2 separate regions of the Homo sapiens genome follow, and region 2 is linked to region 1. The links come from fine-mapping of genetic effects on gene expression. Tissue or cell type: prefrontal cortex. Region 1 holds a variant in brackets; the other region holds the start of a gene. All regions are shown on one strand. Distances are between the middles of the regions.

Region 1 (15,560 bases):
CAGGTGAGCTTGGACTGCCTGTGTTTGTGTGCGTGTTTGTGGGTGTGCACGTGTGCCACATGCCGCTGAGTGAGACCCAGGGCCTAGCCTGGAACCTGGGGTACAGAGGCGAGGCCGCCTCTCTGGGTGAGGTGCGTTCCCTGCACCCGTCCCGGGAGTCTGCCTTCTAGACCCTAGCATGTGCACCTGTCCTGGGAGTCGGCCTTCTAGACCCCAGCGTGTGTCCCTCCTGCAGCAGAGGCGTGCAGCACCACGGAGGATGGGGCCGAACCCCTGCTCTGTCCCTCGGGCTATGAGTGCCACATCCTGAGCCCAGGTGACGTGGCCGAAGGTATCCCCAACCGTGGGCAGTGCGTCAAGCAGCGCCGGCAAGCAGGTGAGTGTGGCACCCCAGCCCTGATCCTGGCTCCTGCCCCAGTCCCCTTCTCCCTGTAAGCGCCTCTCACCCGCATGGACGACCTGCCCCAGGAAGCAGCCCCAGCACCTGGGCCTGACTGAGAGCTCCTCACATCTTCCCCCTGCCCGGCTCCTTCTTTCATGGCCCCTACCCTTTCCCTGTCACACTAGCATGTGACCGAAGCTCTTGAGCCAGCAGACTGGCTGCAAACCCCAGCTCTGCACCTCCCAGCTGGGCGACACTGGGGTTAATTTCTTCCTATCTCTGAGCCTCAGTTTCCTCATCTGTAAAATGGGGCTACTACATGCTGTTGTGGGGCGTGACTGAAATCATAAGTGCAGAGCAGTCGGAGCAGCCCTAAGGAATAGTAGGTGGTCAGTAAGCACTGGATGTTTTATATCCACGTATGTGTAGATGGACCCCGACTTACGATGGTCAACTTAAGATTGTTAGACTTTACGCTGGTGCAGAAGCAACATGCATTCTGTAGAAACTGTACTTCAAGTTCCCATCCAACCATTCTGTTTTTCACTTTCAGTATGGTAATCAAATTACACGACACATTCAATATTTTATTATAAAATAGGCTTTGTGTTAGATGACTTTGCCCAACTCTAGGCTAATGTAAGTGTTCTGAGCACAGTTAAGGTAGGCTCGGCTAAGGTATGGTGTTCAGTAGGTTAACTGTGTTCAGTGCATTTTGACTTAAGATATTCTCAGCTTGTAGGGGGTATATCAGTACATAACTCCATTGTAAGTCAAGAAGCATCTGTATCTGTTTTCAAACTGCATTGAATTAGAATTGTCTGAGAATCCTTAACTTCCAGAACTTCTGCCAGGACTGTTCAGTTTGACTTAATTTGTGTTCGTCTTTGGACACAAAGGCAATAAATAGATGAGTGAATTGTGTTGCTCTCATTGGCATAATTTTCCCAAGAAAAGAAAGAACAATGGCACAGCGATTCCTGGTGGTATCTAAAACCATCTCGAACCCCACTCAAGGCAATCAAGTTGAAAGACTTCAATGTGCTTTTTGGCATGGAGTTTGGATGAACTGTGTGGTGAGCCAGGAATCTGGGACTTCAGGGTGGCCAGGTTCACCTTGTCAAAGTCAGTGTCAGTCAGACTGAGACCACACCCAGGGGCCCCTGTCCCCGCTTCGGCATCTCATAGCCCTAATAGCTAAGGACAGGACCCTCAGACAAGATTGGTGATAATTACAGTGACCCTATTTGCCGAAAGTATACTGGGGAGTGCATGATCTGCCAAAACCTCTTTTTTTTTCTGATTTGAGAATGTTTTTCTCTGAAGTGTTTCAAGAAAGGCATAGACGTAAAATCAGTCATGCATTTAATGTCATTATCATTGCAGATAAAGTGATGCAAATCCCGGAATCCTGAACTTTGAAGAAATTATCTACAAAAGGCTTTGAAACAAAGAGATGCCTTTTTGGTTTCCTCTACATTCCACTTGCTATTTGCAGGGCTTTGTTTGGGGTTATAGGGTGGCTTCTCCAGCCAGATAGCCTGGGCTGCCACAGCTACTCAGCCCCTTACTGCTGTGGGCAGCAAATAACATAACCTTTTCAGGCCTCATTTGCCTTTTCTGTAAAATGGGTTCATAATACTTGAGGTACTTCACAGGGCTCTTTGAGGAGTGAGTTAATCTGTGTAGAGTGTCCATCAATTCACAAGCACAGTAAACAACCTTCACTGTTTTATCACTGCTTGTCTCTAGACACTCAATCCTGCCGTGGGTGGGTGGGGTGTATGGTCCTTTGGAGGTAAAACCGCAAGGGCCTGCCAGCCACTGTGAGGCTGCTGGAGTGTGGAAGGGATAGCCTTTTCCAAAAGAGAGCTGTGGGGCGAGTTGTGAGTTCGTTGGGCTATGCCACCATTTATAATAATGACGGCATAATAGGAATGCCTTGGGCACTTGTCTTTTTCATCCCCTGATCTTTTCATTCAGCCCTATGATGTCTAAGACCAAGGTCAAACCAAGTCAAACTAGTTCTTAAGGGTTCAAACCAGTTAAAAAAATTCCCATTTCAAGACAGAGCTAAGCAAAGAGGGTCAGTCATTCAGTGGTGACCACACCAGTGATGCCTACTGTTAACATGCACCTTTGGAGTGCTCTCTTTAAATTAAGCTTTGCTGCAAGCCTGCAAAAGGAGAAGTAGAACCAGGAGGCAGTGCTGCATAGGTTTCAGAGTGCAGGCTCAGAACCACAGAAAGAAGTCCAAAGCCTGTAACTTTCTTCCTCCGTGGCCTTGAGCAGGTCACCCAACCTCTCTTAGCCTCAGTTCCTTGATCTGTAAAATAGAGATGGCGATGGTAACCATAGTGACTACTTCATGGGGTAGTTATGGGGCTTGAGTGAGAGAAACACGTATGAAGTGCTTAGAATAGCACCTGGCCCACTGTAGGTCCTCAGTGAATGTGTGCCACCATCATCCCTGTCTTCGTAAAGGGAGGATATGAGTTCAGGAATTTACCCAAAAGATGCAGAGCTGGAAGAGCTGGAATTCCAAGACTGTCCACCAGCCTCAGAGCCTGTGTGTGTGTGTGCGTGTGTGTGTGTGTGTGTGTGTGTGTGTGTGAGCTTCCCCTCCCAAATGAACGATTTGAGGCTTCCAAATGGAACTGTAAGTGGAATTCCCCCTAGCCTTGTTCTCAGGGGGCTGACACTTAGCAATAATTACTGGTAATTTACTGGTAATTATATATAGGTTTGAAAACATTTTGAATTCCAGCAACTTCCCTTGGAGCAAAAATCTCAGGGGAAGGGTGGCCCCCTTGTCCCAGCCTTACCAAGGAAGAAGCTTTTTATTTAAGTTTTTAAAAACTGCATATTTGAAATAATTTCAGACTTATAAAAATGTTGCAAAAGTAGTACCTTGAATCCCCCACCCAGATTCACCAGTTGTTAAAAAACTACCGTTACATTTTCCTTTATGCTCTCTCCCCACTTATAAATCTACGTGTGTATTTTTCTGGACCATTTGAGAGTAAGCGACAGGCCCTGTGCCGACACCTAAGATGCCATCCTCCCGTAAGAGAGGCTTCTAGCGGGTACCAATAGTCCTTCAAGTTTGACCATCCAGCACCTGGAACCAGGCATTTGAGGGGTTCACATTTTATGCAAGAGGAAAATGAACACTGACATGTATAGTAAATCTGGTTTTTCAGAGAGTGGGTTCAGGGAAAATCGGTGCATTTTTCTGAGTAGGTTTGAGGTCACACAGAAGCTGAGCTGCGGGGGCTGGCCCCTCCTTGTCCTGCCCAAGACACTGCTTGAGAAGAATGAAGTGGGGCTTGTCTAGCCTTGAGTGGGAGGCAATTTGAGAAAAGTGACGAGTAATCATTTTTGGTAATAAATTATAAGTGATTATATTTGGCCTGAGGAGGGGGTCCGGGGTCCACATTTACCTCTGTCTCCTTGTGGTGTTATGGGCCAGAATTCACCCCCAGGTAAAGGGGGAGCAGGAAAGTTTTGGGGAGCTCCCCCAGCCTACAAAAACCTTAGCCATTTGCTTTGGAAAATAGTTATTGCTGCAGTTGCTGATCAGCAGGCGCTGACCCACCGGAGGGCCTGGAGCGGTTCCATGGAGCGTTAGCACCTTGACCGATAAATGTCCGTGCTGGTCCCAAACAGCCTGATGATTTTTAGTATGGCCACAAAACAAAAGAAAAAGAAAATGTCTGGCTACCGCGCATATGTGCTTGATTAACCTTATAGCAGAAAAGGCAGCGCTGATCACCAGGATGGAGAAGTGAGCTAAATTTGAGAGAGATTGCCACATTCAAGCATCCACATGTCCTGGTCACATTCCTGTCAGCAAATGCTTTCCTGCTACCATGGGGTGGGTAGCACGGCTAGTCATGGGACATGCATGAAATTGCCAGCAGTTGACCACTTTTTACACACAAAGATAGAATTTTCATACGGCTCATCCTAATACTGCATAGATATGTTTTAAATGAAATTGTTTCTTTTAATCCTCACAATAACTTTAAGAGGTACTAATTTTATGCCTATTTTTAGGAGAGGAAACTGAGGCTCAAAGAGGACGAGTGAGGATTCATACTCAAGTTACTTTGTCATTTGCAGTAATGACATCAGAGTGTCTCTTGGGCAGACTCAAAAGAGTGTCATCTCTTCCCCCTGTGAACATATTTTGTAATGACATTTACTCAACAGTGTGTTGAAATTTGGCTTCCAGTTCATCTGTTAAGACAATGGTTTTGGCCGGGCATGGCGGCTCACGCCTGTAATCCCAGCACTTTGGCAGGCTGAGGTGGGTGAATCACCTGAGGTCAGGAGTTCGAGGCCAGCCTGACCAACATGGCGATACCCCATCTCTACTCAAAATACAAAATTGACTGGGTGTGGTGGCGCATGCCTGTAATCCCAGCTACTCGGGAGGCTGAGGCAGGAGAATCACTTGAACCCAGGAGGCAGAGGTTACAGTGAGCTGAGATCATGCCACTGCACTCCAGCCTGGGCAACAGAGTGAGACTTCGTCTAAAAGAAAAAAAAAAAAGACAGTGGTTCTGAAACTTTTTGCTCTCAAGACCGCTGTACCCTGAAAGATGTTAAGGAGATCTCACAGGGCTTTCCTTTATGGGTTGATGGCTCTGGATATTATCATATTAGAAACTAGAGCTGAGACATTACAAATGCTCATGTAGCCTCTGAACAATTCCATTGTACACTAGTGAGATGGGGAGACTGAAAAACACAAGTAATTCCTCAGTGTTATTATGACAACAGTTTTGGCCTTCTAAACTCCTAAAAGAAGTTTTTTCCTCTCACTTGTTTTCCAGATGGGCGAATCCTACGACACAAACTTTACAAAGAATATCCAGGTAAAAGAAGAAACTGTTCTTTCTTTCCAGAGGGCACAAAAAAAAGGCAGTGAAAGTTTCTTATGTGAAGAAAAAAATAAAAGCCCAGGGCTGAGATATAGGGAACAAAATGGGACCTGGGATTAAGAAACAAAATAGAAGACCTGTGGTCTGATGGTGGGCAGGGAGTTGTGAGTCACAGAGGAGCTCATGGCAAACATGACCTCATGCTGAAGAGCAGAGCCTGGAACTGCTCATATTTAAGCCTCTGCTACTTTCATTCAGAGAATTGGAAAACACGCCTGATACCACTCTTCCATTCATCCATCTAATCATCCATTGATCCATCCATCTCTCCATCTATTATTTCATCCATCCATTCATCCCTCCATCCATCTACCCACCCATCCATCTACCCACCATCCATCCATCCATCCACCGATTCATCCATCCATCCTCTCATTCATCCATTCATATATCCATCTATTCTTTCATTCATCTTCCTGTTTTTTCATCCATTCATTCCTCTATCAATCTATTCATCCATCTATTCATTCTTCCATCCATCCACCCATTCATCCATCCATCCACATATTCATCTATCTTTTCACCCACCCATCTATCCTTTTATCCACCCCTTTATTCCTTCATCCCTCCATCCATCCATCCTTTCATTTACTTACCTATTCACCAATCATCCATTCATCTATCCATCCATCCATTCATACATACATCCTTTCACTTATCCATCTATCCACCCATCTACCTTTTTTTTTTTTTTGAGATGGAGTCTCACTCTGTTGCCTAGGCTGGGGTGCACTGGAGTAATCTTGGCTCACTGCAAACTCTGCCTCCTGGGTTCAAGCAGTTCTCCTGCGTCAGCCTCCCAAATAGCTGGGATTACAGGTGTCCGCCACCATACCTGGATAATTTTTGTATTTTTAGTAGAGACGAGGTTTCACCTTGTTGGCCAGGCTGGTCTTAAACTCCTGACCTCAGGTGATCTGCCCGCCTCGGCCTCCCAAAGTGCTAGATTTACAGGCATGAGCCACTGTGCCTGGCCCCATCCACCCATCTGTCTATCCATTTATCCATCCATCCACTCATCCATCCACCCACCCATCTATGCATCCACCCACCATCCATCCACCCACCCATTCATCTATCCATTCACTCATTCATCCATTCATATATTCATCTAATCTTTCATCCATCCATTTTTTCAAGCATGCATCCATCCATCCATTCCTCCATCGATCTATTCATCCATCTGTTCATTCTTCCATCTATCCATCTATATATTCATCTATCTTTTCATCTACCCATCTATTATTTTATCCACCCTTCTATTCCTTTATCCCTCCATCCAACCATCCTTATATCCACTCATCTATTTGCCCGTACATCCATTCACCCAACCATCCATCCATCTGCCCATTCATCCATTCATGCACATATCCTTGCATTCATTCATCTATCTCTTCTTTCATCCATTCATACATCCATCCATCCACCCATCCACCCATCTACCCATCCATCCATTCACCTATGTATCCATTCATCCATCCACCCATATATCCATCTATCTATTCAGCCATCCAGCCAGCCACTATCCATCCATCTATCCATCCATCCATATATCCATCCGTCCATCCACCCACCCATCTATCCATCCATCCATCCATCCATCCATTCATCTACCCATCTATCCATCTATCCACCCACCCATATATCCATGCATCCATCCATCCATCATTTATCCATTCACCCATTCACCCATCCATCCATCCATCATTTATCCATTCACCCATCCATCCATCCATTCTCCCATCCATCTGATATGTCTTTATCAATAATTTACAGCACATATTTTCTAAGTATTACTCATCAGTCTGTGCTGGGGGTTGGAGCTACATTTGTGAACATGACAGACCCAGTCGCTGCTGTCATGCAGCTAATATCAAGCAGAAAATTCAGACATGAATATAGCCCAAGTGGTTATTTTATGAGAATAGTGACAAGCCTTCCTGACATCACATGCTGGATACTATGAGGACACCTTAGTCCAGGTTGTGAGAAAAGGCTTCCTAAGGAGGAGACATGAAAGCTCAGCCTAAAGAATAAGAAATAGTGGGCAGCAGAATGGCATGTGTGAAGCTCTTGAGGTCGGAAGCAATTTGGCCATCCCCAAAGCTGGAGTGTGTGGTGAGCTGTGGAGGTGGTGGGAGGTAAGACCAGAAACATAGACAGAGCTGGTGACACCAGCTGGGGGGCCTGGGGAGGGAGAGGAGGCACTGCAGGTGGGGACTGAGTGACCTCAGCTGGGGGAGGGAGGAGAGGGCCAGGTCACCAGGCTTCATTTGGCAGTTCCTGGTGAGCCACGGGGGGCATTAGAGCAGGAATAGATACATCTACCCCAACAGAGCTGTGTTCTTTTCACAGAAGGTGACTCAAAGAATGTGGCAGAACCTGGAAGGGGACAACAGAAGCACTTTCAGTAAAGCAACGGCAAGCAGGTGAGTGGGCAGAGAGCAAGAGTCATGGCCAGGGTAAATGTGGGCAGCCAGTGTCCTGGCAGCTTTCACCACCAGGTTGAGGAGCAGGAGGGTGAGAGTAGCGCTTTCCCTACTGGTAGAATTTGAAATTCCCTTCTGCAGTAAGTCCTCACCTAACGTCATCAATAGGTTCTTGGAAACTGACTTTAAATGCAACGACATACTATATGCACTGTATGCCATAGAAGCTTAACTCATTTGTTTGTTTTTTTAAGAGATGGGGTCTCACTCTGTCACCCAGGCTGGAGTGCACTGGCACAATCATTGTTCACTGCAGCCTCAGACTCCTAGGCTCAAGCCATCCTCCTGCCTCAGCTTTAGTCTCAGTAGCTGGGACTACAGACATACACCACCTCACCTGGCTAATTTTTTTTTTGTATTTTTTGTAGAGATGAGTTCTCACTATGTTACTCAGGCTGGTCTTGAACTCCTGGCCTCAAGCAGTCCTCCCACTTTGGCCTCCCAAAGTGCTGGGATTGCAGGCATGAGTCACTGTGCCTGGCCTTAACTCTTGTTTATATCCATTAGCCTATGGTAAAATTGTTTTTGTTATATAGTAGGTCATTTTGCTTAAAGTTGCAGTTTCCAATAAGCTATCCATGATGTTAAATGAGGACCTACTGCAATTTCAAGGCAGGAACGTAGGAGAACTTTGTGTGTGATCAGAAGCAGAAGCAATTCTGTATCCCTCTGAATCAAAAATCCAAGACCAGACTAGGTCGCAACTTTCCTTTTCATTCCTTTGCCTTGATGTCTCCAGGAAGTCTTGTCTATCTCTTCTCATTTCTGTCAAACAATTCTGTTGGGTGCCAACTATCTGATAGTCATGGTTCCAGCCTCTTGGTTGCTCAGCGGTAGTTCATGCCAGGGTGGTATAGTGAACAAATCCCACAGAGCCGCTGCCCTCAGGGAGGCCACATCCTGGTAGGGGACGGCTACACAAGCCAACAGATCAATCAATACAAAGACAGGTGTGGTGAAGAAGTGAACAGGCAATGTGGGGCAGAGTCCCTGGGCAGGAGCAGAGCCTGGGGCAGGGGCTGCTTCGTTTGGGGTCAGGGAAGGCCCTGTGGGGGTTGAAGTCTGAGCCAAGATCCAAGGTGAGAAGGTGCTGCTTGGGGAGGGTCTGGAGGATAGGCGCCCAGGTGGAGGGAGTTGGAAGAGTGAAAGTACTGAGGCAGGAGGGACGCTGGCTTTGGGGAGCCAAAGAAGGCCCCTGGGGTAGACGCAGGAAGGTGGCAGGGAGGCTGACTCCAGAGGAGGCCGCAGGTGAGGCACAGGCTTGCCCTCACGTGCCCTCAAAGGTGAGGCGTAGGTGCATGCAAAGGGCTGTGGAGTTGCAGCCCTAAACCTGAAAATCTACCCAGCCCCTGTGAATGCTGGATAGCCACAGAGGGCAAAAAGGAGCCCCTAAAAGCAGGTGACAGCCTCCCAGGACGTCGCTGAAACGCAAATGTCAGATTGCAGGTTCCAGAATCCTCCCGGAAAATCTGGAGCCCGTAGGGACTGATGCCAGCACGTCTGTTACCTGCTGATGACAGGAGCCGTCCCTGGAGTAGGTCAGATGCAGCTGAGGACTGAGCTTCTAACAGGGAAGAAGGAGGCCAGTGGATGAGGACGAGACCTTGGGAGGCAGTTGAGGATGGCAGTTTGGAAGTTGAGGCTTTTGGGTGGGCGCAGCAGCTCCCGCCTGTAATCTCAACATTTTGGGAGACCGAAGCAGGCATATGGTATAATCCCAGGAGTTCAAGCCCAGCCTGGCCTGGCCAACATGGTGAAACCCTATCTCTACAAAAAAAAATACAAAACTACCCAGGCATGGTGGTGTGCACCTGTGGTCCCAGCTACTTGGGAGGCTGTGGTGGGAGGATCACCTGAGCCTAGGGAGGTTAAGGCTGCAGTGAGCCATGTTTGCACCATTGCACTCCAGCCTGGGTGACAGAGTGAGACCCTGTTTCAAGAAAAAAAAAAAGTACAGCCTTTGGAGCAAGCTAGGTCTGGGTTTAAATTCTTGTTCCAGCACTGTGGATTTAGTAAATAATTTCGGCTCTCCAAGCCTCAGCCTCCTCATCTATAAAATGGAACTGATGGTAGGGGAGGAGTTAGGAACTAAATAAGATGATGCCGTGAAGACGTCACAGTGAGTTCAGAATTGGGTCTTCTCAGAAAGGGGCATCTTCCTGGTGTTTCTGATGGTGGCGGTGGCGGCGGGGAGACGAAAGATTTGTGACTCTGTGGTCTGCCCTGCAGTGGTTCACCCTGACCCTTCTTTGTCTCTGGTCTGCCCTGCAGCGGTTCACCCTGATCCTTCTTTGCTTGCTTTCCAGCTAGGTTGCAAGAACATTCCTCTACTTTCTGCTAAGCCTTGGAAACAGTTGGGAAAAGTAGTTTGACCCTCACAGTTCACATTCAGCTCAGCAGAGCAAGACCCCAGAGATGCTTAGAGACAGGACACCTGGCCATCAAACCCAGTTTGGCCCAGCCTGGTTGGGTGACTTTGTGGGAGCCACTTAACAGCTCTGGGTCCCTGTTTTACCATCCTGGGAGCAAGGCCCTGCAGCTCCACGAGACCTTTACCCCGGGAAGAAGCCGCC[A/G]CCCATGAAAGCATTTCTGAAGCCCCTTTCTAAGACAAGGCTCAGCATCTTGATATTTTTGACAGATTCCTCCCAAGTCTGGCTCTGGGAGGTATGTACCCATCTCAAATGTTCCCAAGATAAATTCATCCTTCAGGAAATGGAAATGAACTTGCTTACTAATGTGTGATTCCTAGTTGTAGCCACCGGATGTGCTGAGGCCTAAATGTTAGCAGGTGGGAGGAGGCCACAGAACAATAAAAACAACCAAATAAGATGCCGAGTCTCTGGTGTTTTGTGATACTTTGTCACTGTTTAATTCAGGGGTGGGAAGCAGCGTGGGTATTGCTGGGATGAGGTGTCAGCTAGGCTCTGCTCCTGGAACCCTGTGTTAGCATAGAGCCCCTGAAGCAGACCTTGGGAGGGGGATTTGTTGAAAGTGATTCATTAGGGCGGTTCCTGGGAAAAACTGGCATGAGAGTGGGGAAGCGGAACAGGAGGAGACAGTCAGACGAGGGAGAGGTGACGAGGGCCCATGGAGGGCACCTTTGCTGCAATCCCTCTGGGGGTCTTGGAGGAAGCCTGAGTCCCACCAGGGCTGGCTCCAGGGCTGTGCATCCAGAAGGACCCTATGCTTGGTTTAATGATCTGCTGTCACCATTTAAAAACTCTTAGTCATTGTTGAACAAGGGGCCTGCTTGTTCATTTTGCAAATGATGTCGGTAGCCCTGAGCCACACTGTGGAGTCGGTCCCACTGGGGCTGGACAGCGGAACCCGAGTATGCGTAACGCTTCCAGCACCCATCAGTGGGTGGCGAGGCTGCCCCTCCCCCTAAGAGAGGAGGCAGCCCACCTGCTGCCAGGGAGGGAGAGGCACAAAGGCACCCAAGGGGACATCGGCAGAGCCCCTGGGGCACCCCGGGGCTCTCCCATTAAATCATGGGTGCCCCACCTGTGCTAGACGGCTTGCTCGCACTGTCCTGGGGTTGGCTGAAGTCCCCAGGGCTCATCAGAGCTGAGGACAGAGGCCCTAAGGGACTGTGCACCCCCAGCTAGCCACATACAGTGGAAGCAAATAATTACAAGCAGCAGAGACTCCAGGGGGCCTGGCAACGTCTGTGCATCTCTCAGATGAGGAAACTGTGGATCTTGGAGATCTGAAAGGACCCACCCAAAGCTGTGAAGTCAGTAAGAGCCAAAACCAGGATTCCGAGCAGGCAGTCCCACCCCACACTCAGGCTCCAGACAGCCTGCTCTTCTGCTAGCCTGGCCTGTCGGAGCTGACTCCCTCCCGCCACTGAGGTGTAGAAGGGACGCCTGACAGTGTGCCATCCTGCGGAGGACTCTGGAGTGGAAGGGACTGGGCTGAGCTCATCCCTACTCCCTGGAGGGCTGCTCACTAGATGGGGTGGAGACACTAGAGCCTGTTCAGCCTGAGTTCCAATCCTGGGCAAGGCACTTGCCCTCTCAGAGCCTCAGTCTCCTCTTCTCTGAACTGGGTGTAATAAAAGTAGCTGGCTTTCAGAGTTCCTGTAGGTATTGCGTGAGATGCTACATAGTAAGTGCTGAGCACACAGGGATGGTTATAATTATTATCATTAGCCGGGCACAATGCACACTAATTCTCTTAATACAAAACCTCGTGAAAAGAGTATGAACATCCGCATTTTCCAGCTGTAGAAATTCAGCCTCAGAGAAGTTAAGCAAGTTGCCTAGGCTCAAAAAGAAAGCAAATGACAGAGATGGGCTTTGAGCCCAGAGCTTCTGATGCCCAAGACTAGACAGGCTGGTCCTACCTTGTGTTGAGTCCCAACCACCAGCTGGGCGGCCCTCACAGGTTACTGAACATGCCCCAGCCTCAGGGTCCACATTTCTAAAGTGTCAACGAGAACTCCAACCTCATTATGATTATTACTGTGAACTCAGTCACGATCATATGAATGGGACTGGACTGTCAAGATGCAAATACCAAGGCAGGAAGGTGGTCGTATACTGCCAAGTGGTCAAAAATAAGACCTGCTTTCTGCTTTCAAGGAGCCCAAGTCCTTGAGGGAGTGAGAGAAATGAGAGAGTTATGATCCAGGGTGGGGAAGGCACAGATGGGAGCAGGGGCCGGAGGTGCCAAGAGAGCCCAGTGAGGGATGCTAAGCCAAGGCAGAAGGCAGGGAAGGCAGTAATCAGGGAAGACATCCTGGAGGTGGTGATGTGCTAGTTGGTCATAATATCTGAACACTTCTGGGAACGTGTGCATTTCAAGGGGAACTGCTGTCCCTGTTTGGCTTAAGGCAGAGGTTCTCAACCTTGGCACTATTGGTGTTTTGCGCAGGATCATTCTTTGTGGTGGGGGCTGTCCTGTGCAGTGTAGGATGTTGAGCAGCACCCCAGCGTCTACCCACTAGATGCCAGAAGCACCCTCCCCCAAGCTGGGACCACCAAAAATGTGACTTTGCCAAAGTCCCGTGGGGTACAGTTACCCGGTGAGAACTTCTGGTTTAAGCCCAAAATAAGGAAGCTCGACTTTGTATCATTTCACCCGTCAGCAAGTTCTCCCGGGGCACTTTCCCTTAGGCTCACGGTAATTAACTTTTCCACTCACTCATCACTTGTTCATGCACTGACTCATGCACTCATTCTCTCAAGTAATATTCCCAGGCACTAACCACCTTTTCTTTAATCAAATCTGAGGCACCATTTTTTTTTTCACCTTTTGACATTCCTGAAGTTAGGGCTTGTCTTATGGCCAGTGTCCTCCAGGCCCAGACACGAGGGAGGCATCATTGCCTGTACATGTGAATATCAAAACATGTAGGTTGGGTGTCAGCAGCTTGGTGGAAACTTCCAGAAACAACAGAGGAACCAAAAATTCTGCATCACCAATGCTCTCAGAAAGAAGTCCTATGAAATACCTTATCTCATTTATTGCACTTATATTTTTATGTGATACACACATAAGAATGACGCATCATGAGGCCGGGCGCGGTGGCGCAAACCTGTAATCCCAGCACTGTGGGAGGCCGAGATGGGCAGATCATTTGAGGCCAAGAGTTCGAGACCAGCTTGGCCAACATGGCGAAACCTTATCTCTGTTAAAAATACAACAATTAGCCAGCTGTGCTGGCGCACGCCTATAATCCCAGCTACTGGGGAGGCTGAGGCACAACCAGGGAGACAGAGGTTGCAGTGAGCTGAGATTGTGCCACTGCACTCCAGCCTGGAGGACAGAGCAAGACTCTGCCTCAAAAAAAAAAAAAAAAAAAAAAAAAAAAAAAAACGCATGATGAAAACTTATGTCTATGTAAGTCTAAGAAAGGCCTTTAATGACCTTGAAATCAAAAGGGAAAGAGCAAGATGGCCAAATAAAAGCCCACTCCATTCATCTCCCCTGCAGGAACACCAAATTTTAGCAACTAACTACACACAGAAAGCCTCATGACAAGAACAAAAAATCAGGTAAGCAATCACAGTTCCTGGTTTTCACTTCGTGTTGCAGAAAGGGGCATGGAAGAGGCTAGGAAAGACAGTCTTGAATCGCCGGTGCCACCCCTCCTTCATCCCGCAGCAGCAGCCACGAGGCATGGGGAAATCTATGCACTTGGGAGAGGAAGACTGCAGCCACTGGGGGGCTTCACATTGAACTCAGTGTTGCCCTGTCACAGCAGAGAGCAAAGCCGTGGTGGCTTCAGCCAGCGCCCATGCACAGAGGGAGCATTTGGACCAACCCTAGCCAGAGGGGAATTGCCCATCCCAGTGGTCGGAACTTGAGTCTCAGCAAGCCCTGCCACCGTGGACTAAAGTGCTCTGAGGTACTAGGTAAACTTGAAAAGCTGTCTAGGACACAAGGACTGTAATTCCTATGCAACTCCTGGTACTGGGCTGGGCTTAGAGCCAGAGGACCTGTGGGGCACATGACCTAGAGGGACACCAGGCTTCAAGGCTAAGGAAGTGCTTGAACCACCCCTCCTCCAACTCCAGGCAGCACAGTTGGCAGCAATGAAAGTGACTCCTTCCTTCTGCTCAGGGAGAGGAGAGTTAAGAAAAGAGGCCTTTTTACGTTGCATCTTGGAGTCCAGCTCAGCCACAGTTGGAGAGGGCACTGGGCAGAGTCATGAGGCCCCCATTTCAGGCCCTAGCTCGTGGGTGACATTTCTAGGTATACCCTGGGCTAGAAGGGAACCCACTGCCTTGAAGAGAAGGACCTAGTCCTGGCAGGATTCATCACCTGCTCACTAAAGAGCTCTCAGATCCTGAATAACCAACAGTGATCCCCAGGTAATATGCTGTGGGCCTTGGGCCCTGAGAGGTGCTGGTGTCAGGTGTGACCAGTACATTCCCAGCTGTGGTGGCTATAGGGAGAGACCCCTTCTGTTTGAGAAAAGTGGAAGGAAAAGTAACGGGGACTTTGTCTTGCACATTAGGTACCAGTTTGGCCACGGTGGGATAGAGCACCAAGCAGGCCCTTAGGGTCTCTGAGTCCAGGCCTAGGCTCTTGGACAGCATTTCTGGACCTGCCCTGGGCCAGAGGGGAGCCCAGTGCCCTGAAGGGTGAGTCCCAGGCCTGGCAGCATTCATTACAAGCTGACGGAAGAGCCCTTGGGCTTTAAGTGAACACCAGCAATGGCCTGGCAGAACCCCCGACCATGGGCCAGTGGTGACAGTGGCCACAGGGAGAGGCTCCTTTGCCTGTGGAAAGGGGAGGAAAGAGCAGGAAGGACTTTGTCCTGTGGTTTGAGTGCCAGCTTAGCCAGAGCAGAATAGAACACCAGGTAAACGTTTAAGACTGTAATTCCTGGCTCTGAGGCAGCATCTCTGGGCCTATCCAGGGCCTGAGGGAACTCATTGCCCTGAAGGGAGAGACACAAACCTTGCTGGCTTCACCACCTGCTGATCATAGAGCCCTAGGGCCTTGAGTGAACATAGGTGGTAGCCAGGTAGTGGTTACAGTGGGCCTTGGGCAAGACCCAGTGCTGTACTGCCTTCAGGTCTGAACCAGTGCAGTCCCAGTGGTGGTGGCTGCAGGGATGCTTATGTCCCCCAGTCCCAGTTCCAGGTGGCTCAGCACAGATACAGAGACTCCATTTGTTTGGGAGAAAGAAAGATAAAAGAATAAGAATTGCTGCTGGTAATCCAGATAATTCTTCCAGTTCTTATCTAAGACCACCAAGGCTGTACTTCTATGAGTCTGCAAGAA
Region 2 (15,560 bases), 31 kb before region 1:
CAGGGGCTGCCTGCATTCCTTGGCTCATGGTCCCTTCCTCCATCTCCAAAGCCACAGCGTAGCGTGTCAAATCAACTTTCCCTTGACTTCCACCCCCACCCGACTTCCACCATTCATCTCCTCTGACTCTCACTCTCTACCTCCCTCTTACAAGGACCCTTGTGATTATGTTGGTCCCACCCAGATAATCCAGGATACTCTCCCCATCTCAAGATCTTTGCTTTAATCCCTTCTGCAAAGTCCCTTTTGTCAGGTAAGACCACATGCTCGCAGGTCCTGGGGATTAGGATGTGGACATCTTTTAAGGGCCCATGATTCTGTGTACCACAGGGAAAGAGACCATCAGTGGTAAACATAATAAGTACATTTCATAATTTATTAGAAGGTGATGAAACTATGGAAAAAGAAAGCAGGACAAAGGGGGTTGGGAATTTAGGGTGGTGTAAAAGAGGCAGATGGTGATTTTAAAAGCTCAGTTGGGGTAAGCCTCATTGAGAAAGCAAAATTGGAGCACAGACTGGAAGGAATTGAGGGATCAGCTAAGCAGGTATCTGGGGAGAGAGCAACTGGGGGGCTGTGCAAAGGCCCTGGGGTGGGAGCTGTCAAGGAAGAAGCTAGAGCAGAGTGAGCACAACGAAGAAGTGGAGATGGTGATCTCAAGAGCCCAGCACTGTGCCAGGCATATAGTAAATGCTCACTAAAAGAGGTTCCTGTCCATGTCCCAGAGAAAGCTTCGGAGATGGACAACGCTCAGCCCTGTCCTCAAAAATTTATGGTCAAGTGAGGACAGAGGAACATGTACAACCGTCTTCTACATACTACTCATTCAACACTCACGACAACCCTGTGAGACAGGTATGTTACTCCCATTTTACAGATGAGTCAACCAAAGAACAGAGAGGGCAGGTGACTTGCCCATGGTCGCACAGCTGGGAGGTCTCAGAGCAGGTGTCTGTGCCCGAGCAAGCTGGCTGCAGAGTCCGTGTTCTTCTTTTATTAAATTTCAACTTTTATTGTAGATTAAAGGGTATATGTGCAGATTTGTGACACGGGTAAATTACATGCTGCTGAGCCTTGGGGTCCCAGTGATCCCATCACCCATGTGATAAGCATAGCACCCAACGGGTGGTTCTTCAGCCCACGTCCACTTTCCCCCCTCTCCCATCTACTGGTCCCCAGTTTCTGTTGTTCCCATCTTTATGTTCACATGTATTCAATGTTTAGCTCCCGCTTATAAGTGAAAACATGTGGTGTTTGGTTTTCTGTTCCTGCATTGGGCCACGTAGGATAATGGCCTCCGGCTCCATCCATTGGAGCCCTGGCTGCAAAGGGCATGATTTTGCTGTTTTTTATGGCTGCACAGTATTCCATGGTGAACAAGTACCACGTTTTCTTTATCCAGTCCACTGTTGACGAGCACTTAGGTTGATTCCACGTCCTTGCCGTTGTGAACAGCAGTGTGTAGCAAACATTTGAGTGCATGTGTCTTTATGATAGAATGAATTACTGTTCTTTGGGTATATTCCCAGTCGTGGGATTGCTGGGTTGAATGGTAATTCTACTTTAAGTTTTTTGAGAAATCTCCAAACTGCATTCCACAGTGACTGAACTAGTTTGCCTTCTCACTGAGCGTGTAAGTGTTCCCTTTTCCCCACAGCCTCGCCAACATCCACTGTTTTATGACTTTTTGTTTTTTGAGACGGAGTTTTGCTCTTGTTGCCCAGGCTGGAGTGCAATGGTGTGGTTTCGGCTCACTGCAACCTCCGCCTCCCAGATTCAAGCGATTCTACTGCCTCCCAAGTAGCTGGGATTGCAGACACCTGCCATCACACTCAGCTAATTTTTGTATTTTTAGTAGAGACGGGGTTTCATCATTTTGGCCAGGCTAGTCTCGAACTCCTGATCCCATGTGATCTGCCCATCTTGTCCTCTCAAAGTGCTGGGATTACAGGTGTGAGCCACTGCGCCTGGCCTGTTTTATGACTTCTTAATAGCTGTTCTGACTGGTGTGAGATGGTATCTCAGTGTGGTTTTGATCTGCATTTCTCTGATGCAGAGTCTGTGTTCTTAATGTTACTTGACGTTGCCATGTTGACCTCACCCACAGCCATGACTTTGGCCTTGGCCTTGACTTCTATCATGACTAATATATATACATAGAAAAAAAGAAAGGCTACGTTGGTTATCTCTGGATACTGATACTAGATGTATGTATTTTAAAGATTTTGTTTATTCTTTCCTCTGTTTTCCCAGTTCTCTGCTAATAAACATGAATTATGCTATTAGGGGAAAAAAACCATAATATAATAACTTTTAAAAATTCTGAATTAGGCTGGGTGCGGTGGTTCACACCTGTAATCCCAGCACTTTGGGAGGCTGAGGCAGCTGGATCACCTGAGGTCAGGAGTTTGAGACCAGCCTGGCCAACATGGTGAAACGCCATCTCTACTAAAAAAAAAAAAAAAAAAAAAAAAAATTAGCTGGGTGGTGGCTGGTGCCTGCAGTCCCAGCTACTCGGGAGTCTGAGGCAGGAGAATCTCTGGGACCCAGGAGGAGGAGGTTGCAGTGAGCCAAGACCACACCATTGCACTCCAGCCTGGGCAACAAGAGCGAAACTCCATCTCAAAAAAAAAAAAAATTATGAATTAGAGACCAGATAAAGAGAGGAGTAAGGTAGGTATTAGCAGTGAAGTGAAGGTTTGAGCTTGGGTGTCTGGTTAGACAGTGATGGCCTTGGCTGAACCTTAGAGAAGGAGTTTGATATCTCAGACAAGCAAAACTTAATAGAAACATAAGGCAAGCCACATGTGTAATTGTAAATTTTCTAGTAGCCATGTGAAACAGATACGGAGCCGGGTGCAGTGGCTCATACCTGTAATGTCAGCACTTTGGGAGGCCGAGGCAGGTGTATGGCTTGAGCCCAAGAGTTCAAGATCAGCCTGGGCAACATAGTGGGACCTCGTCTCCAAAAAGAAACAGGTACAGTTAATGTAATACCATATTATATTTAACCCAATATAGCATAAACATTAGTAGTTGAATTAGCAGTTGAATGCACGACCAACGTAAAAACTCCTAATGAAACGTTGACATTTTTTTTTTCCTGTCTCCAGCCAACAACAGATGCTGGTGAGGCTGTGGAGAAAAGGGAACGCTTATACACTGTCGGTGGGAGGGCAAACTAGTTCAGCCACTGTGGAATGCAGTTTGGAGGTTTCTCAAAGAACTTAAAGTAGAATTACCATTCAACCCAGCAATCCCACGACTGGGAATATATGCAAAGGACAGTAATTCATTACTGTCATAAAGACACATGCACTCACAGGTTTTCCAAATCGGGTCTGCATTTTATCCTTATGACAGATCTCATTTCAGACCAGCCATGTTTCACAGGGAAGCATGGGTAGAGAGCGACAGCCACGTCGAGCCATCGAGCTGGTAGATGAAATGTGTTAAGCACAACTCATTCATTACACCGTCTTTACTGAGTGTCTACTTTGCACCAGGCACTGCTTAGGGATCGGCGATTCCAAAGTGAACAAACAGATCCCCAGAAGCTGCCCCCGTGGAGCTGACATCCTAGTGTGGAGACATAGACGATAAACGAAGAAAGCAAAGTTAGTAAAATACAGAATATGTCAGGTGGAGATGAGTACGAAGAAGCATAAAACCAAGAGGGGCACCGTGAGTCCCAGTGGTATGCAAATGGTGGTTTTCAATCCTGGGGTCAGAGAGGACCACAGCAAGAAACTGACACGTGAACAAAAGTCTGGAGGAGGTGATGGGTGAGGAGTGCCGCAGCTGGGTGGAAAAGCATTCCAGGTGGAGGGCGCTGCAGGGGCACAGGGCTGGCGCCTTGCCCAGCAAGGAGGCTGAGAGAGGGCATTTGGAACCTCGTCTACCCAGAGGGAGGGGAGTCATACTGTTGGCAGAAGTGAGGCCACCCAGGGAGAGAGAGAGAGAGGCAGGAAATGGGCCAAGACTGTAACATCAATGGGAAACGCCTACATTTTAAGGGGAAGGTGGAGATGGAGGATGAGCAAGAACCACATGGGAGGCGTTAGCTGCCTTAGGAGAGCGCAGGGCCCCAGGTTCCAAGCAGCAGGAAGTTTCTCAAATGGAACCTGGGCCAAGGTTCCGCTCTGCCTGGAGAACAGGGTGCGGGTGGAGGAGGCCCAGGAGGCGGTGCCTCAGAACGCTCATCTCCTAACAGCAAGCATGTGCTGAGCCTAGATCCTCGCCTAAGTGCAGCTGGGCCTCATGGCAAACCTGCGAGTAAGTTCTGACTCCATACCCCTGTTTTACAGATGAGAAAACAGAGGCAGAGAGATGGGGCAGGACCTGTTCCAGGTCGTCCTGGTAAGTAGGGGTAGCAGCTCCATCATGTCCGTGGGTGGCTCCTGGCTTCTAAATAAGCAGCCTTGCCCTGCAGGGAGGGGCATTGAGACTGCGTCCCATAAAGCTGAAAGAAGAGGGAGTGGAGCACGCTGGACCATGCCCCCATAAGGGCTCAGCCAGTAGTTTCTGGATGAAGAAATGAAGGAATATTCTAGAATCTAGGGCAAGGTAATGATCAGGGCTGGGCCTAGCGGGAGGCAAAGGAGGCATCTAGGGTCTAAAATGTAAAAAGACTCTCACGCTTGGGCTCCTGGGTTTACAGGACTCTGATGGTGAACTTAAATTTTGCATTGCTCACTGGGCAAGTGTCTTAACCTCTCTGTGCATGGGATCCTAGACAGCACCTGCTTATAAGGCTAATATGAGACCTAAAAGCATTAAAATGCAGGAAGTGCTTCAAACATTGCCGAACACACAGACTGTATGGCTTTTAAGGTTTTTTTTTTTTGATACAGGGTCTTGCTCTGTGACCCAGGCTGGAGTACAGTGGCGCCATCACAGCTCACTGCAGCCTCAACCTCCCACGCTTAGGTGATCCTCCCATCTCAGTCTCCCAATTAGCTGGGACTACAGGTGTGCATCAGCACGCCGGGCTACTTTTTTTATTTTGTATTTTTTGTAGAGATGAGGTCTCACTATGTTGCCCAGACTGGTCTTGAACTCCTGGGCTCAAGGCATCCTCTGCCTCCCTAAGTGCTAGGATTACAAGTGTGAGCCACCGTACCCGACCTACACAGACTATATGTGTTTGCCACTATTGTCATTCACTAAAAGGCCAAGAGGGGTTGATGATACCTGCCCAGGGCATTCTGAAGGCTGTGCTGGCCAGGAGGTGGGGGGTGAGGGTCCCCAGGGAGGGAGGAACCAATCTTTCTGGAGCACTCACTCTGTGCAAGTGCTGGGCACAGCTGGCACCCTCTCCTGTAGCCCCACATCGATCTCAAGAGGCAGAGACTTTCACATGCCCATTTCACAGATGAGAGAACTGAGGACCATGAGCAAGAGGCTTTCCAGCATCTCGCAGAGGCTGAACTGGGATCAGGCAGGTGCGTCAAGCCTAGTGCTTGGGTCCCTTCTGCTTCGCCTAGGGGGGTGCCACAGGGTCTGACCTACCTGGGTTCCAGCCTCCTCTCTGCTGCTGTTGCATGACCTCAGGCAGCCCCCTCTGTTTCCTCATCTGTAAAGCGGGCATCAAAACAGTGTCTGTTTTGGGGCCGGGTGTGGTGGCTCACACACCTGTAATACCAGCACTTTGGGAGGCTGAGGCGGGCAGATCACTTAAGGTCAGGAGTTTGAGACCAGCCTGGCCAGCATGGTGAAACCCAGTCTCCACTAAAAATACAAAAATTAGCCAGGCATGGTGGCACATGCCTGTTATCCCAGCTACTTGGAAGGCCGAGACAGGAGAATCGCTTGAACCCGGGAGGCAGAGGTTGTAGTGATCTGTGATCACACCACTGCACTCCAGCGTGGGTGACAGAGCAAGACCCGTCTCGAAAAACAAAACAAAACAAAAAACCAGTATCTGTCTTGGAAGTGCTGAGAACAGACAAGGGAATATGAAGTTTGTGAAATGTTGAGCCCGCTGTGCTACATTCCTGTAAAACACACACGTGCACATGCACACCCACGTGCACACACGCATACACATAAATGCACATGTGCAGATACACCGGCTGACAGTGACAGCACACTTATGTGTGTGAAATGCTTTATGTGCTCAATTTCTTTTAAATCTCACAGGAAACACACGCTATGAGGAACTACCCACATGCCCACATCAGGCAGGAGGACCCCGGCGGGTGCAAGGGTGGAAGTCGTCTCTTCATGGCTGCACCCTTGGCCAGTGCCAGTCCAGCAGCCTCTTTCAAAGAAGCTTTTATAGGCAGATAGTTTGTCAGCCCAGCTCGAAATGTGAACAAGGTAGCAGCCGAGCCCCCACCCATCCGGCTGCACTCCCCTGCATGTCCAGCCCCGAGCCCTGTGTCAAGCACACCTCCTTGGGAGGAGACCGCCCCAGCCTGCAAGGAAGTGCTCATTATGGAGAGTGGAGAGTGACAGGCCACTCCCGGCCACGTCTCCAAGCAAGCCGGTGCCCCCTCCTCCTGCTGCCACCGCCCACTGAGCTGCCTGGGCTGCAGACGCCCTGGTTGGAGCGTCTGGGGCCAGATGTTATAGGGCAAGCTAAAAATAACCGGGCAGGCCAGCCACCATCGAGGAAGGGGCATGTGCTGGACGCGGACACATGATCCGAGGGACCCTGCTGGGTGGAACTAAGAAAGTCCAGCAGACTGTGCACGCTCCTGTCCCCACTCACAGGCCCACGCAGCGAGGGGGGCCCCTCTTCTGTGTGCGTCTGGAAGGTCGCTGCCCAGGGAGGAAATGCCTTTAACCGGCGTGGGGCCGGGCAGCTGCAGGAGGCAGATCATCCGGGCTCTGTGCCTCTTGCTACTTCTCCTCCACGCCGGCTCTGCCAAGAATATCTGGAAACGGGCATTGCCTGCGAGGCTGGCCGAGAAATCCCGTGTAAGTGCCTGGGATGGGGAGGCTGGGGCAGCCTGTGTGGGTGGGAGTCAGCCTTGAGGAGAGGCGATCCCTAGACACTGCCTTCTCCTGTAAGTGCTCCCCCAAAACGTGGCAAGGCAGGCGTCTTCCTATCCGTGTGTGTCTGAGTTGTGTGGTGGGCAGATGGGGCTCACCCCCAAAAAAGGACCCTTATCTGTGAATCAAGAGGCAAAAGACACATCACAAATGTGCCAAAGAATCGTGCCTTACTTTTGCCTTGTTACAAAAGTATGCTTGCTCCTGAAAGACAGCATCTCATTTCGGAACCCCAGGATTTAAACGGAGCATTCCGTCTCCCTGATCAGTACCAAATGTTTGTGAAATACACTTATGCATTCATGTGGTTGTTTATTCATTCAGCAAACAGAATGAATACACTCTGTTAAACAGAATTTAGCAGAAACCGCTCTGGGGAAGGCACTCTGTGGGGTCCTGTGGATACAAGATAAAGGAGGTACCAGCCCCCATCCTCAAGGGTGGCGTGGCCGAGGTGCAGAGGCAGTTGGGTGACAAACGATGGCAGTACAAAGAGAAGGCATGAGGCAGTGAGTGGCAAGAAACACATGCCCTGGGGCCAGATGTCTGGGTGTGAATCGGGCTCTGCTGCTCATTAGCTGCGTGGCTTCTCTCAGGCAAGCTGCTTGACGTCTCTGAACCCCAGCAATCTCATCTGCAAAAGACAGAGGGATGCATTTCTTCACACAACTATGTCTGGGTCGCCACTGTTTACCAGGTACTGTCCTAGGCTGTGGGGATACAGGCCTCACATCTCTGCCTGGGGAACTCAATGGGGGGCTGGGGGCAGCAAAGAATAAATGAGAGAGATCTCATTTATTAGTATGTGCAGATTGCAAGTGCTGAGGAAGCAATAAAGCAGGAAGGGAACTAGGAGAGAGAATGGGGTGGAGGAGGCTATCATTTTTGGTTCCTCCCACCCCCCAGAGATCACAGATCCGCAGGGACGGAGTGAGCCAGGACGATATCAGCACACAGAGGGCTCAAGAAGGTAATGCTGGCACCCACAGCACCTGTGTGAGGATTGAATGTCTCAGTATGTAGAACGTCTTTGCAACATAGCAAGCTGGCAGTGCATCTTGGCAGCTTTCAATCAAATAATTGTGACTTTGTTTGGTGTTGCCTAACAGGGTAGCATGTAGGTTCCTTGGGGTAGGGCAGGGTTCTGTTTCACTAATGTGTGCCCCTGGTGCCTGCCATTAAGTTGACGCCTGGTACATTCTTGTGGGTGAATTATGAGCGGCTGCAGTGGTAGCACGGGATGCGTGTGCAGCTCTTCCCCAGGAGAGTCAGACAGGGTTTTTAGGGTTGGGGACAGTGGACCTGTGGCTTTAAAGGATAAATAGGAGTTTGCCAGCTGGAGAAGAGGGAAGGGAGAATGATTAATGACCCCAGGCATAGTGGGGTGCCTGAAACTGTATTGAGACAAATCTGGGCCTCCAGGGCTCATATTCTCCATGTTCGGCACATGCTCGTGGCGGGAGACAGGAGGACTTCGAGAAGTGGAAAGAGTAGTAGAGTGACATGATGAGGCGCTTGGAGAAGGGAAAGCTCATGTGAGATGGTGTAGTCACCTAAGGCTTCCTGGAGGAGGTGGAGACCTTGACTGGATCTTGGGGAAGGATTAGGAATTAGGAGGAGGAAGGAAATTCCTGGAAGAAGGCTCAGCATGAGCCGAGGCTCACAGGCAGAAGTGGTGCATCTAAGAGCTGCTTGGGAGACCAGACCTGGCCAGAGGGGAGGCATTGAGGAGGGGTGAGAGACTCTTCTCAGATTTTATTGACTCCTCCATGCTCTTCTCTGGTGCAACAGGATGATTTAACCCTCAACTGTAGTTAGTAGCACTTTGGTTCTACAACCATAGAGAGATTGCCAATATGTCATCTGATTTTATCTCCACCATGTCCCAAGATGTCATAGGAGCCAGCACTGTGACATCCACATAGGAGGGTCAGGGTTGATATGCGCGGGGGATTTGGGGGAGTCTCTAAAACACAGGCCTGGGTGGGCTGCAGGAGCTGATTCACTTGTAGCCACCACTGGTCAGGATGCAAGTGCTTTGAATTGGCTCCTCGCTGAATTGAAACTTTCCCTGGTTATCAACAGATATTGGCCTCCTTCCTCAGCGCCTAGACATAGGTGAGGTTTATGCAGAACAACTGTGCCAGCCAGGCACGGTGGCTCATGCCTGTAATCCCAGCACTTTGGGAGGCCGAGGCGGGTGGATCACCTGAGGTCAGGAGTTCAAGACCAGCCTGACCAACATGGTGAAACCCCATCTCTACTAAAAATACAAAATTAGCTGGGTGTGGCGGCAAATGCCTGTAATCCCAGCTACTCAGAAGGCTGAGGTGGAAGAATTGCTTGAACCCGGGAGGTGGAGGTTATAGTGAGCCGAGATTGTGCCATTGCACTCCAGCCTGGGCAACAAGAGTGAAACTCTGTCTCAAAAAAAAAAAAAAAAAAAAAAAAAAAAAACTGTGCCTCAGAGAAAGCCCTGGGCGAAGACAGGCTGTTCGCCTGTGGCTCAGAGGACAGGGAGGGCTGGGAAGAGCACCTGGCCTGGAACTTATCACAGTGAAATCTCTAATGTGCTGTGCAATCTTGGACCACTCGCTGCCCTTCTCTGGTCCTCAGTCCTCACCTGGGAAATGAAGATGGAGAACCTATGACTTTCATGGCCCTTTCGTTCGACAGGGACTTACGGATGATAGGAAGCAGCCCCCACATGCACAAAGTCGAGACTTCCCCGTGAGGCACCACTCCCTCACCCTACGCTGAGTGAGACCTTCAGCCTTGGCCCTGACCCTCAAGGGCTATGGGCTCGTCAGAGTGAGGAGATGCTGGCTGTGTGCTGAACTGGCTTGCACCCCCTCTGGAGAGCCAGTTTTGTTCCACACAGCCATGATCACAAACTAAGTTATATAAACTTACAGTTAAATCATTTGTATTAAAAAGAAAGGAAAGAATTTTTTTTTTTTAAGACAGAGTCCCGTGGTGTGATCTTGGTTCACTACAACCTCCACCTCCCCGGCTCAAGTGATTCTTGTGCCTAGGCCTCCTGAGTAGTTGGGATTACAGGCATGTACCACCACGCCTGGCTAATTTTTTGTATTTTTAGTAGAGATGGGGTTTTGCTGGTCTCAAACTCCTGAGCTCAGGTGATCCGCCCGCCTCGGCCTCCCAAAGTGCTGGGATTATAGGTGTGAGCCACCGCACCCAGCCAGGAAATACTTCTTGTTAGAAATGCATCACTTTCCAATTGTATTGCTCCGTTTTGCTATTCTCTTGGCTCCTGGGGTTTTATGTCTTTTGCATCCGTGTGGTATGACCAGGAGAGAAGCTACTCCACATCTCTTCCCACTCCCATTCAGTGGCCTCACGTGGGTTGCCTGAAATCAACCATGCTGGGAGTATTTACACCTTGGAAATTGGCCAGGGCTACATGAGGAGAGCTGGTGGTTCAGTCCTGACCAAGCGCAGGGCTGCCTGTAGCCTGCTCTAGTCTCTCAAAGCCTCGTCCCCCGGCAGAGTGAGTTTTGTGTAGCGGACTGGTCTCTTAGAGTGGGGCCGGTTAATGTCCTGAGTGCTGTTTATGCTTCTTGGTCTAAGCATGCAGAGACAGTGCCAGAGATGAGCACGCTTGCCTTCCATTCCCGTGGGAGGCCCTTAGGAGAAGCTTCTAATGAGAAGTGCCGGGTCTCCCGCCTTCTATCTCTAAGACCTTCAGGAGTTTCCTTCTCCTATCTGAGCCTCGGTTTCCTCATCTGCAGCACGGGACACAGTAGTGCCTGCTTTGCAGGGCTCAGTAAAAAGACCATAGAGCCCACAGTTCCCTGACTGGCACAGAACTGCATTCCCTACATGTGCACTACGGACAGATTTAAAAACCCATTCCAGGCCGGGCACAGTGGCTCACAGTGGCTCATGCCTGTAATCCCAGCACTTTGGGAGGCCAAGGCAGGCAGATCTCCTGAGGTCGGGAGTTCAAAACCAGCCTGACCAACATGGAGAAACCCCGTCTGTACTAAAAATACAAAAAAAATTAGCCGGGCATGGTGGCGCATGCCTGTAATCCCAGCTACTCGGGAGGCTGAGGTAGGAGAATTGCTTGAACCCTGGGAGGCGGAGGTTGCGGTGAGCCGAGATCGTGCCATTGGATTCCAGCCTGGGCAAGAAGAGCGCAACTCCATCTCAAAAAACAAAAAACAAAAAGCAAAAAAAAAAAACCAAAAACCCCATTCCAGAACCAAATATTTATGAGAATGAATAAAACAGAAGCAGAACGTTTGTAAATAGTCCAATAACCTTTCCATGGAGCTCAGTCGGTTCTGTGGACTTGGTGTTTTTGGTTTTTCTTTCCTGGCATTAGATGAAACTCCTGAGAACAATGATTTACTGAGCGCTTACACTGTGTCAGGGCAAGAGTTTGCCACGTATTCGCTCTTGGGAGCCTCTCGACAAATCCACCGGGTGGGGCCCATGGCAGCCACCATGCGGGCCTCGGTGCTATGCAGCCCCTGGCCTGGGCAGGCTGGCCCCTACTGTCAGTGTGACTGTGGGTCTGTTTTCCCCTCTAAGCACCCCTCCAGGGCAGCTGGAAATGGTGGTTCAGTTTGCACCCTGCCCAGAGATGCCTGTCCTGCTGAGGGGGGCTGGGAGGGGCTAGAGCAGCCAGGAGCTGGTGCCACTTTCTCTTTCAAATGCATCCTGCCAGACGGGGGGAGGGAGGGGAGCATTGCATTGTCTATCTGGAGGCACCCCCTGTGCTAATAGCAGTAGGGGACTGTAGGAGCCAGCAGTGGCCCACAACTTGCATTCCTCAGTTCCCCATCTCCTTTCCCCCATTATTTCTGTGAGCTCTTGAGAGCCTTCCAAACATCCTTTTATTTTTTGCTGAGATAGCAAGAGTGGGAGAAGCAGATGGCCTGGAGCTGTGCTTTCACCATTCCATGAGTTCTGACCTTCACCTTCATCTTTGTACCGTAAGCATCTGTGTCTGCTGGCCTGAAGGCTTTCTCTGGCTGCAGGAGCCTGCTCAGCCCACACACAGTCAGGCCAAGGTGCCGGGGAGGTAACACCTGTAGGAGCAAATGGAGCTGGAGCCCGATGGCCCAGCTGGCTTCTCAACTTTGGTGGGACACGAGTGAGGAGTGTTCCACACGGTTTCTCCAAGGTCCACTGGGTTTGAGCTCTAGTGCCCAGGCAGCCACCTGCTCATTAACACTCCCTGAAGGGCGCCTTCCCTTTCCTGCCCAGCTTCCCACTCCCCAGCTGGGGCTTCCTGGGATCCCCTCCCAAATGTACTCCCTGCACTCGAATCCTGTCGGATCCATGCTGTGGGTTGAACTGTGTCCCCCCAAAGATATATCCAACCCCTAACTTCTGATCCTTGTGAATGTGACCTTTTTTGGAAACAGGTTCATTACAGGTGTAATTAGTCAAAATAAGATGAAGTCATGCTGGAGGTGGGTGGTTCCTTAATATGAACCCCGTTCCTTATAAGAAAAGGAGAAGGGGCCAGGCATGGTGGCCCACGCCTGTAATTCCAGCACTTTGGGAGGCCGAGGTGGGCGGATCACCCGAGGTCAGGAGTTCGAGACCAGCCTGGCCAACATGCTGAAACCCTGTCTCTACTAAAAATACAAACATTAGTTGGGCATGGTGGTGCATGCCTGTAATCACAGCTACTCAGGAGGCTGAGGCAGTAGAATCACTTGAACCTGGGAGGCGAGGTGGACGTTGCAGTGAGCCAAGATCATGCCATTGCACTCCAGCCTGGGCGACAGAGTGAGACTTCATCTCAAAAAAAAAAAGGAAAAGGAGAAGAGACATAGAATCAGAGACACATGGAGAGAAGGCCATGCAAAGACAGAGGGTTGCAGAGGTCAGAGTGATGTATCTACAAGAGACACATGAGGGACCAGAGAACATGAGGGACTGCCAGCCACCACTGGAAGCTGGGAGAGACATTGAAAGGTTTTCTCCTTAGAGCCTCCACAAAGGAACCAACCCTGCCAGACACCTGGATCTCAGCCTTCTGGCTTCCAGAACTGTGAAAGAATCCACTTGTGTTGTTTTAAGCCCCCAGCGTGTGGCATTTTGTTGCAGCACCCTCGGACACGAATACAGTCTGCTCTGGGCATCAAGGGAGTCAGCTTCTGTTGGTTGCAACCGGCAACGAGACATTTCACAGATAAGGAAACTGAGGCCATTGCAGAGAATGACTTATCTGTGCTGTTTTGGCTGGGGACAAGTGGGGCTATCACTATATCCCCAGAGTCTGGGAGCTTTGTCTGCTCCTTGAACCAGGTGAGCTCACACCCTGCGGGACTTCATCATCAAGACTATGAAGATGCCTACGTCTTGGGGGTCAGCGGGTGCTCAGTAGGCTCCGGAAACCCCCAGCAGCACCCAGGAGGGGGTCTTCAAGGCTCATGGTTGAGAACCCCAGAAAAGCCCCGGAGCTGCCTGGGTGCTGGAGAGAGGGGATATGTCGTACTGATGTGAAGCAAACTTACTGTAGGCTTGGCCACACCCTGGTGTCTAGCCCAGAACCTGGCATGGAGGGGGGACTGGAAGGAATGAAAAGTCCATGAATAGCTGACTTTTGAGGGGGACCTTAGGCAAATCACTTTCTCCTCGCTGGGACTGAGATTCCTCATCTGAGGTCCCAGCCCTGAAATTCCAGGTGGAAATCAACGAGTAAAGAAGCATCCCAGGTCCCTGTGTGGTTATCACTCGGGAGAGGGAGACAGGAAAGCAGGACACCTCTGTGCCAGCACTCACCGCAGCCACAGGGCAGAGGCAGATGGATGCCCATGGGGTGAGCACATCGCACCTGTCCACTCAGGGGACTAGAACTCAGCCATAGAAAGGTACGGAGCCTGGACACACGCCATTGCACAGATGAACCTCGAAGACATGATGCTGAGTGCACAAAGGCCACGGGTGTGTGACACTGTTTGGATGCAACGTCCAGAAGAGGCAAATCCAGCGGGACGGGAAGGAGATTCTTGGTTGCCAGGGGCTGGGGGAGGGAGGAATAGGGGGCAGCTGTCTGATGAGAACAGAGGTTCTGCCTGGGGTGATGGAAAAGCCGCAGAAATAGATCATGGAGGTGGTTGCACACATCGTAAGTCTAATTAATGCCGCCAACTCGCACACTTAAGATGGCTGAAATGGAAAATTGCATGTTATATATATTTTACCACAATAATTTTTCTAAAAAGCAGCGAGAACCTGAGGCACCTCTCGGGAATTCTGCGATGGCACATAGAGTCCTTGTGAGTCCTCTGTGTCCCCAGCACCGAGAGGCAGCCTCTCAGCAAGTGTCCGCTCACGGTGCCCACTCCGGCTCGTGGGTCATCGTAGCTTCACGCCCATCTCCTCCGAGGCCTCTCCCTGAATGCCCCATTATGATTTCCCTTAAATGTTTACATAAGAGCCCAGCTCTTCCTTCTTAGCATTTAGCTCTGTTGTTGTTATTGGCATGATTTGTTTAGGTTTCTCTCTAACTGCTTTTGCAGATGACCACAAAAAGCAATTCGTTCGCCTTATCTGTGTGCTGTTGTGTGTGGTGTCTCTGACTTGTCCTGAAACAGCCACGTGAAGTCAGGGCCAACGTCTTCTGGTTCAACTCGGAACTCCCCATTTCCAGCCCAGCGCCCGAAACCCAGTGGGCCTGGGAATTATGAATTTACTGTTGAATGAATGAATCAATTATGTTAAAACCTTCCGGAACAGAATAGAAGGGATGGAAAGTTCTAGAGGACTCTCGGGTGCACTGACTGACAATGACATTGTTGGGAAGACTTGGTCGACTTTGCCGTCTCGTGAATTTCTTTCTTTCTTTTTTTTTTTTTTTTGGCCTCCCTCTGAGGAAGTCCCATTAACCTTGTGCCAAATTCTGTCCCCAGAGCCCAGTGTTAAGGGCCCCGGGCACCAGGAAATGGCATTCATCTACGCACGCTGAACTCTAAGCCCACTGTTCCGGGGAGCGACATATTTTTAGATGTTTGACGTCCAAATTCCAGAGGAAGAGCAAGTAATGCTTAGAGGAAAACTGGCTTTCTTCCTCCACCACGCAAACCAGTGCTGGGGTGCATTTTTATTGGTCTGGCCGCTAAGCTGCTGGAACTTTCCAAAGAAGGGTAAAAGCTCCTGCATGTGGAAGGAAGGGGGTGGTGAGCACTGAGGGAGGCATGTGGGTAGCTTTGGTGGCAGCTCTGGAGATTGGATTCTTTTTCCCTAAATGGAAGTGGTTTATAAATTCTTCTACTGATTATTAAAAGAATGATGTTTACTGTAAAAAAAAAAAAAAGTCAGGCAACACAGAAAGTTATAAATTAGTAGAAATGATCTGAATTCTTCCTCCAAGATGTAAACTCTGGTGACATTCTGGGGTGTCTGTCTAGATTGTTTCATGAAGCAGTTACACACAGCACACGTGTTTTCTCTTAGTGGTATTTTATTCGTACTGATTCAGATTTCTTTTATTGAAATGAAATTCACATGACAGACAATTCACCCTTTCAAAGGTACAATTCAGTGGTGTTTAGTATACTCAGAGTCATGCAACC

Which allele goes with the higher level. Alleles are on the strand shown, and positions count from the first base shown. SD is a standard deviation of normalised expression in the study named.
In carriers of allele G in region 1, the expression in prefrontal cortex of the gene that starts at base 6,687 in region 2 tends to be lower than with A alone (small effect, 0.26 SD a copy in CommonMind).

The links.
Region 2: WFDC1 starts here. The variant in region 1 is fine-mapped to the expression of WFDC1 in prefrontal cortex (CommonMind, PIP 0.95).

The regions. Positions count from the first base shown.
Region 1 is chr16:84,319,196-84,334,755 of GRCh38, forward strand. It overlaps WFDC1 (WAP four-disulfide core domain 1), which reads left to right. Exons shown (of 7, transcript NM_021197.4): 4 at 236-376; 5 at 5,224-5,265; 6 at 7,687-7,760; 7 at 10,127-10,649. The coding sequence ends at 7,745. Among named protein-coding and RNA genes, the nearest start is that of WFDC1, 32 kb to the left of the region's middle. RefSeq lists an enhancer at 270-791. The variant A/G (reference allele first, on the strand shown) is at 10,394.
Region 2 is chr16:84,288,192-84,303,751 of GRCh38, forward strand. It overlaps WFDC1 (WAP four-disulfide core domain 1), which reads left to right and starts at 6,687. Exons shown (of 7, transcript NM_021197.4): 1 at 6,687-6,924. The coding sequence starts at 6,781. LOC124903734 reads left to right here. Exons shown (of 6, transcript XM_047435022.1): 2 at 726-855; 3 at 3,507-3,785; 4 at 4,308-4,359; 5 at 5,326-5,444; 6 at 6,142-6,647. The coding sequence starts at 3,782. The coding sequence ends at 6,647.